Linked DNA regions of Homo sapiens: region 1 is linked to region 2. The links come from fine-mapping of genetic effects on gene expression. A gene starts in region 2. The other region holds a variant in brackets. All regions are shown on one strand. Distances are from middle to middle.

Region 1 (4,387 bases), 69 kb before region 2:
GCCATGTCAAGATCAGGTCGTTACTGTGGGTCCTAATCCAATATGACTGATGTCCTCATAAAAAGGGGACATTTGGAGCCAGCACAGTTGAGGGAAGACGGCAGTGCGGTCATGGAGTCAGAGGCTGGAGGGATGCGGTGATGAGCTGCCAAATGCCAAGCACTGCAGAGCTCCCAGGAGCTGGAAAGATGGGAAGGATCTACCCCTCCAGGAGTCAGGGAGAGCAGGGCCCTGCTGACAGCTGGATCTCAGACGTCCAGCCCCAGGACTGAGACAAGACCTTTCTGGGGTTTTGTTTTTCCTTTTATTGATTAATTGACTGATTGACAGGGTCTCCTTCTGTCACCAAAACTGGAGCGCAGTGGCACAATCATAGATTACTGCAATCTCAAACTCCGGGGCCAAGGTAGTCCTCAGCCTCCTGAGTAGCTGGGACCACAGGCACGCCACCACGCCTGGCTAATTGTTTTCATGTTAATCTTTTGTAGAGATGAAATCTTTCTGTGTTGCCCAGGCTGGTCTCAAGGGATCTGCCCTCCTTGGCCTCCCAAAGTGCTGGGATTACAGGCATGAGCCAGCGTGCCTGGCTGATGTCTGTTGCTTAAAGTCACCCAGTTTGTGGCACTTAGCTATGGCTGCCCCAGGAATCTGATACAATGTCTAATTTCCAATTTTTAGTATATATGCTGCTGAAGCGAGCACAGTATCTAATTTCCACAGCAATGTTTAAAAACAGCATTTTGGGCTGGGCGTGGTGGCTCACGCCCGTAATCCCAGGACTTTGGGAGGCCAAGGCGGGCACATCGCTTGAGGTCAGGAGTTTGAGACCAGCCTGGCCAAAGTGGTGAAACCCCGTCTCTACTAAAAAATACAAAAATTAGCCGGGTGTGGTGGCACACGCCTGTAGTCCCAGCTACTCAGGAGGCTGAGGCAAAAGAATCGCTTGAACCCAGGAGGCGAAGGTTGCAGTGAGCCGAGATCGTGCTATTGCACTCCAGCCTGGGCGACACAGTGGGACACTGTCTCAAAAACAAAACAACAAAAAAACCTACAGCATTTTGCATCCCTATTGTTTAAAAAAAATCTGATTTATCATATCTTAAAAATCATGAGTTCAACTCTATTTCTGTCTGCATTTGTCTTTTGCTTCATCCATCTCTTCCCCTGTTGCTAACACGGATCTTTCTCCGTGAGAGCACACCCTCTGTGTTCCTATCCCTTGTCTGTCCTTCCCTCCGTTCCTGACCTCTTTCTTTCCACCCTCGAATCTTTTTCTTTCTCTCTTTCCTGTGCTTCAGAGTATTTTCATCTAACGTTCTGCGGAGGCCCATGGTTGGAGGGAGTGACAGCCGCGCCTTCCCGTGAAGGGAATGGAGTAGGTGCCACACAATGGGCGTGCCCACCGGAGACCCGAGCAAGAGTGAATGATTTTCAAATTAACCTCCTCGTTCTTCACCTTCCTCAGGAACACGCTACTCATGGTACTTGCTAAATTCTGCTTTGCTCTCCTGTGAGTTTTTTGCACAACTACTTTTTCCTGGGGTCTAAACTCCTTGAGAAACCACGTGCAGCCCTTGGTGAGGCTGGAAAGGAGGATGCTAGAGGGGCTGCAGGAAGGGGTGCGTGGGTCTGAGCCTGCGGGGCTGGGGCAAGCTGTTACGGGGGCTGCAGGAAGGGGGACGTGCGTCTGAGCCTGCGGGGCTGGGGCAAGCTGCTTTGGGATAGGCGGTCTCCTCAGTGCCCTCCCCTGTAGCTGTGGGGCGTCAGGGGGTGTCTGGTGCAAGTGCTTTGGCCAAGACTCTGTGACTGTCTGCCTGGCCACGCTTTCCCATCTGGGGTCAGATTCCCGAGGAGCCTGTGCGTGCGGAAACCTTGGCTTTGGCGTTGCATGAAGGCCCCGCGGGGAAATGTCCTCAGTGAGCATCCAGAGAGGCGTTCCAGGAACGGGGATCCAGGGCCCCGTGTGCCCGTTTCTCTCTGAGCCAGGGCAGGGTGAGGAGTGGGGAAGGAAACCGGAGCCTGGTCAGGCTCACGGAAGCCGCGTGCAGAGCGTGACAACCTGCCAAGATCCCCCACGCCCACACCGGAGGTCTGACCACCAGAGGGAAACCACCAGCCGGGCAGCACCTGGGGCGGGGGAGATGAGCAGCTGGTCTGGGAGAGGCCCTGGCCATGCACTTCGAGGGCTGAGTGACACAAGGTCCCCATGGGCAGGGGAAGGGTTTTGAATCAGATCTTTTGGACAATCCATGGTTCCTTATAAACTAACCTCTCCTGGCTAAAAAGGCCTGACTTTCCAGGGGTGTCCACCGGCTTCTGTTTCCTTTTGTGTCTGTCGCTGGGACTACAGGCCCTACACGTGTGTAAGCTCCTGAGCCACGTCCTAGGACTGTAGGACCTACCTGAGTGTAAGCTCCTGACCCACGTCCTGGGACTAGGCCCTACCTGAGT[G/T]TAAGCTCCTAAGCCACGTCCTAGGACTACCGGCCCTGCATGCATGTAAGCTCTTGAGCCACATCCTAGGACTACAGGCCCTACACGTGTAAGCTCCTGAGCCACGTCCTAGGACTACCGGCCCTACACGTGAAAGCTCCTGAGCCACGTCCTAGGACTACCGGCCCTGCATGCATGTAAGCTCTTGAGCCATGTCCTAGGACTACAGGCCCTACACGTGTAAGCTCCTGAGACACGTCCTAGGACTGTAGGCCCTACCTGAGTGTAAGCTCCTAAGCCACGTCCTAGGACTACTGGCCCTGCATGCATGTAAGCTCCTAAGCCACGTCCTAGGACTACTGGCCCTGCATGCATGTAAGCTCCTCAGCCACATCCTAGGACTACAGGCCCTGCATGCCTGTAAGCTCCTGAGCCACGTCCTAAGACTACAGGCCCTGCATGTGTGTAAGCTCCTGAGCCACGTCCTATATGACATCCAGCACATGGCTTGGCAAAGGATGCTGTCTAAAATTCTTCATGAGTCCACACAAAGCAAATGGAGTCATAAAAATAAAACAAAAAAGAGTAACGTAGAAAATAAACCAAAAAACCCTGAATCATGTACATCCGATGTTCTCCTCAAAGATCACACAGGACCCTCACCCTTTGAGACGCCGTCTGCCCAGACACACTGCTTGCTAGATATGAGGAGCTGTGGGTCCCCAGAGATCACACAAGATCCTCACCCTCTCAGATGCCGTACACCCGGACGCACTGCCTGTTGGATGTGAGCAGCTGCGGGTCCCCAGAAATCACAAGGGACCCTCACCTGCGAGTTCAGAGATCACACAGGACCCTCACCCTCTGAGATGCCGTCCACCTGGACGCACTGCTTGGTGGATGTGAGCAGCTGTGGGTCCCCAGAGATCATACAGGATCCTCACCTGCGGGTCCCCAGAGATCACACAGGATCCTCACCCGCGGGTCCCCAGACATCATGCAGGACCCTCACCCTCTGAGATGCCATCCGCCTGGACGCACTGCTCGCTGGATATGAGGAGCTGTGGGTCCCCAGAGGTCACACAGGATCCTCACCTGTGGGTCCCCAGAGATCATGGGGGATCCTCACCCTCTGAGACGCCATCTGCCCGGACACACTGCTTGGTGGATGTGAGCCTGCGGGTTCCTGGTTTCTGCCCAGCTGACATGTGGTGGTTCTCAGCGAGGCTGCTCGGGCGCTGTAGGCTGGGTGCCCCATCCTCCAGCGGCTGTCATGTGGCCATGGGTGGGTCACAGCCACGCGTGTTCCCAGTGTGATGAGCCGATGGGTGGGCTGCTCTCTGCCCACACCCGGCTGGCCCAGGCCGTTGTCTTGCCCTGAGGACTGGCCCTGTGGTGTCCTGAGTGGCAGGGCCAAGGGCTCTGCTTCTTCCTGTGCTGAGGTGGTCACCCCGTGACAGGTTCTGTCTGCAGCGCACACCCTCCAGGAGGCACCTGCCCCCCAGCCCCTGCCTCAGGCCCCGCTTCCTGGAGCCCAGCCTAAGACATCGGTGGCCAGGACGGCAAGGACCTGAGACACAGTGCCAGCCACAGCAGCACTCCTGCCTGAGTGGGGTCTGGATGTTCCGGGAGGGCCCTTGTCTCAGACTCCCCCAGACCTTTCTCGACAAATGAAGCTTCAACCTCTGGTTTGCCAGGTGATGGTTAGGCAGCCTGGTCTCACAGCTGCTGGACTCCCTGGATCACTGTGGCCTCAGTGTGGACAGTGGAGCCTCACGACCCTCTCTGTTTTTCTTTGCTTTTGTCAGGTGTGGGTGTGAGATGGCCCAGACTTGGGCCACAGCCACAAGCTTCTGTGACTCACGCAACTCAAGAGCACTGTAGTGGGGTCTCACCGCAGAAGCCATCTGGGAATGCTCTTGACTTGGGGTGTGTGCGTGTTTTCCCATTTTGAAGA
Region 2 (4,387 bases):
TAATGCCATGAATATGTTACCTTATTTTTTATAATTGCCAGTCTGTATAATTAACCTTTCATTTGGTTAAAGTACTTAACATTAAGTAGAGCTATAATTACAACTGTTTTTAAAAGTATATGGAAGAATGTTTAAATGTTTAATTAGAACCACTTTTTTTAGCTTCATAAAGAATTTTTTTTACTTGTCAACAAGGATCTTTAATTATTTAAACCAAAAGAGCAGAACAGACCAGAAAAGAAAAACAACTAGTCAAGCTGGGAACTGCAATGGTGGCGTCGTTCCGTGAGTCTCGGGTTTTGCTTCTTGGGTTTGTGGTCAGAGTCCTTACCTTTGATTTCCTAACACAGGTTGTTAGAGTTGGAAGTGAGTGTGGAGATGAGTTAATCCGACTTTATTCTTTCACGGATGAGAAAGCGAATTATCTTCAGCAAGGTGGGTGCAGGTGTGGCCCCCGGGGGACACTGTGGGGAATAGGCCGCCCTCGTGGGGAGCCAAGTTCGTCGTCTCCGGGACAGAGCCCAGGACACTTCCACGGCTGGCTGGCCTCTTCCTAGAACCCCACACATTGCAAAGGATGGAGTCCAGATCTATACTGTAAAGAAATGAGGGCAGTTACAGAAAGCACCACATTCTCGGCTGAGTGGCTCTGGGCACCCCAACGTTGGGACACCTCAGCATCATGTATGGCGATCCTCAGGCTGTGCCCAGCAGTGAGGCTGGGCCTGATCAAGGCTGCGGTCTCCACCCTGAGAGCGAGGGCTTCCTTCCCCCAGCGCGGGTTAAAGCAGTGAGGCCGGGCCTGATTGAAGCTGCGGTCTCCACCCTGACAGCTTGAGCTTCCTTCCCCCAGTACGGGTTAAAGCAGTGAGGCTGGGCCTGCTGGAGGCTGTGGTCTCCACTCTGAGAGTGAGGGCTTCCTTCCCCCAGTGTGGGTTAAAGCACCATGTGTCCACCTATGCAGTGGCTGGTCCCAGTGTGCCCTGAGGGGCAGAAACCCTGGGTCCTGCCGCTGGTCTGGGGTATCTACTTCCCATTCCTGCAGTTCCTGGGAGTGTCTGTGTGTCCAGGGGGCTCCGATCCCTGCCTCAGGACCACGGGTGAGGGGTCAAGATCGCCCGCTTTGGAGTTGGCCCGGATCTTGGTTCTGTGTGGCTCTGGAGCAGTTTTGTCCTCAGGAGAGGGATCCTCACAGCCGCCTCTTGGGACCATGAGGAGAATTAATAGGATGACCCCCAGGTAGCTACCGTAGCCCTGTGCAGGGCCAACCGTGTGTCTCCACCGCCAGTTCCTTCCGTCTGTGCTCCCACCAACTGTCACATCACCAGCCTTTATTTTCTTTTTCTTAGACCCAGACAGCGAGTGCCCCACTGGCCTCGGCAGCCCCTTCTCTAACTTGTCCTCAAATCAGTTCCTCACGGACAGCCCTGACCAGCCATTGGCATGACCAAAACCCCACCAAATAGAACCCAACTTTCCTATTAAGCTGTGCAGAGCAGTCCCAGCCCCACTTCCCACAGGCTGACCTCATTCGCCATGGGATCCGTGGTTCTCACCTGGGGCTGGGGGTGCCCCTGGCATCTGGTGGGGAGTGTCAGGGATGCCCTTCCAGGTCCAGGATAGTCCCCCAGCTGGTGGCCGACAGACAGCAGCACACAGCCTGATGTCCCTGTGGCTTCCGGTTCCCCGAGGCCAGCTGTGCTTTGCTGCCTCTTCATCTTCTCAGACGGGTGCCCTCTCTCCACCTTCGCTGGTTAGCAATGTTCATCCATTAGAGCTCAAAGCACTGCCTGCTGGCAGCACAGCCCCTTCTCCTGGCCCTCCGTCCGCCTGTGCCCCACGGTCTGTGCCGTGTCCCCGCCTTCCGCCTGTGCCGCATGGTCTGTGCCATGTCCCCGCAGGCCCATCAGAGCGAGGCTCCCAGGGACAGAGCGTTTCCTGTTTGTGTCTCTGTCCCACCCTCTCTGGACCTGGCATGATGCCCGTTGCCAACAGAGGTCTTGGGTTGATTGTCACCAAAGCAGATAATCTATATGGCTGTAAATGGCTGTAAACATGCTTGATTGGGGTATTTTTTAAGTAATTGGATATGTAAACATTTGAATGTGACACAGGTGGATTTTTGGGCCAATGGTCTCGTTCTTCAGGGAATAACCACAGGCCCATCCACAAGGACCATTTCTGGCTGATTTATGGAACACTGTTCTACCTGGTTAATTTTGGACGTTATCTCAGCCTGAGAGGTAGGTCAGCAATGTGACGAAGAGCACTGGTTTGAATCCTAATCTGCTACTTAGAAGCTGCATATTTTCCTGCCACGTTCTGTGCCTCAGTTTCTTGCTTGGTTAGGTAGGAAAGGTATGAGCTACCTCAGAGTGGTGAGTGAGGCCTGCATCGAGTGTCCGCATTAAAGTGCCGAAAACTGGACCCAGAGTGTTGATATTTAAAGACCTTTAAACATTCCGATGCTGCATTTTAGTACCCCGGTAAAACAGCAAAGTCGTTACAGATGCAGACACAGACCCTGGGTGAGGTGGGGGACTGATGGTGGGAGGTGGGTCACCAACCCCGTAATGAGGGCGTGGTCTGTTCGAGGCTGAATGAAGTGCACGTCTTCACGTGTACCACGGTGGTGCCTCTCGTGAAGTCCTGTAAGCGTCCACGTGGCTGAGCCGTGCGGTCTGTTTGTGACGTCTGGCAGGAGCAGAGCTTTTGGGCGCAGCCTCGCTCTTGCGTGCACGGCCCTCAACGATCTCAAAAGTCTGAGGCTTAAAGCAGGCTTGGGGTTTCCCTTACACCTCCCGGACATCTAATTTGCCTGGCAAACATGTTATTCTTGGGTGTAAAGGTGAAGGAGTGGGTGACTCTGGTGAAAGTGTACTAATTACTGCACTTCTGGGTCAGTGGCGCTCGGTTGAAGACACTGTCTGCCCTGGGTGGACATCTCTGGTGTGGTGAGAACCGGCGGCTGGATGTCGCGAGGTTGCCAAGAAGATGCCCGCTTTTTCCTTTTTCCTCAGTAACAAAACCCTACTTTGTTTAGGGAAGCAGCGAACCCAGCTGAAAATCCAGTTCTCTTGTACGGCAGAGCGGCTGGTGACACAGGTCCAGATGCTGGGATGCTGATGGGGGGTTTTGGAGAGGGAGGTGTCGGGAGGGTTTCCCGACCCACAGCAGCCCTGGGCCCTTGTCCGGCCTTCTTGCCCGGGGCATGACGCCTGGAGGGAAAGCAGCTTCGGGGGCCTGAGGGCCACAAGGCAGAGTCCTGGTGTGTGGGGCAGGCCTGGGCCAGGCTCCTTGGAGGATGTTACAGAGCCACTGCGTGTGCGGGGACCACCCATCTCTGAGCCCCACGCGGATTTTCCTCCATAGCCGAGCGAAATCCTGGTACGGCGAGCGAGGCAGTCAGAGGCACCTTTTGTGGAAGGAGGACAAAGCTGGAGGGAAGGAGGTTTTCCTAAAAGGCACAAGGCACTGATACTGCGTTAGGAGTAATTCCTAGGAGCGTGGTAGCTGGTGGGTGGAAAACTGTAGCCAAAGAATAAATGGGAATGGCCCTTCTTGGTATTTAACTGATTCGTTCACGAATGGTCCAAACAGTTGTAGTGAAAAAAACATTTTGGACACCGATGTTTTCATCCTGCCTGACGATCGGCGTGACCGTGGGGTGTTCCATCCTTCCTGGGCAACAGTGAGAGGGCCTGACAATCGGCGTGACCGTGGGGTGTTCCATCCTTCCTGGGCAACAGTGAGAGGGGCTCAGGCCCTTCTGGCCCCATGCAGGCATTTCCCCAGGGTGTGTCCCCCGTCCTGAATAGGCCGGAATGCCTCTGGGTGCAGCTGAGCCTCTTGAAAAGGGAAGAGTCATGTGACATGCTCTCGGTGAACAGGAAAATGAGGGAGGACAAGGAGAGGGGCCTGGAGGTGAGGAGGATGGTGACCAACACCAGGGATGGGATGGAGGGTAACCCCGGGGACGGGGGACGGAGGGTAACTCCGGGGACGGGGGGACGGAGGGTAACACCGAGGATGGGGGATGGAGGGTAACACCACTTCTCCAGGTGCCTTTGGGGGATGCTGCCGCCCCTCCCACCCCAGAGTGAAGTCAACAGGATTCTGTCCCCAGGAGCCCCAGAGCCTGGCAGCTGGGATTGGCCCAGTATGAACCACTGTTCACTGGCTCTGCACCCTGGGACAGGCTCCCTGGTGTTTCCGCCCCAGTTTCCCATCTGGACAGTGAGACCCTGACTGTCCCCGTCACAGGTGCACATGGAGGCCTGGACTCTAGCATGTCATCGGCACTCGTTAGTGTCAGCCCTCGTTAGCGTTTCTTTTGTCGTGGTCCATGGACGAAGTGGATCTTGCTTTGTGTGTTCACAGACCTCCT

Which allele goes with the higher level. Alleles are on the strand shown, and positions count from the first base shown. SD is a standard deviation of normalised expression in the study named.
In carriers of allele G in region 1, the expression in prefrontal cortex of the gene that starts at base 1,890 in region 2 tends to be higher than with T alone (small effect, 0.36 SD a copy in GTEx).

What was found. PIP is the estimated chance that this variant, and not a neighbour inherited with it, causes the effect.
Region 1: its variant is fine-mapped to the expression of DIP2C-AS2 in prefrontal cortex (GTEx, PIP above 0.99). The same link has a PIP of 0.9 or more in putamen.

Annotation. Positions count from the first base shown.
Region 1 is chr10:695,000-699,386 of GRCh38, reverse strand. No RefSeq gene overlaps it. Among named protein-coding and RNA genes, the nearest start is that of DIP2C, 7.5 kb to the right of the region's middle. The variant G/T (reference allele first, on the strand shown) is at 2,452.
Region 2 is chr10:626,067-630,453 of GRCh38, reverse strand. DIP2C-AS2 (DIP2C antisense RNA 2) reads right to left here and starts at 1,890. Exons shown (of 2, transcript NR_147612.1): 1 at 1,557-1,890; 2 at 1-595. The region is part of intron 1 of DIP2C (disco interacting protein 2 homolog C); the gene reads left to right. It overlaps LOC124902361, which reads left to right. Exons shown (of 1, transcript XM_047426106.1): 1 at 1-4,387. RefSeq lists enhancers at 356-1,315, 3,465-4,256, 4,257-4,387.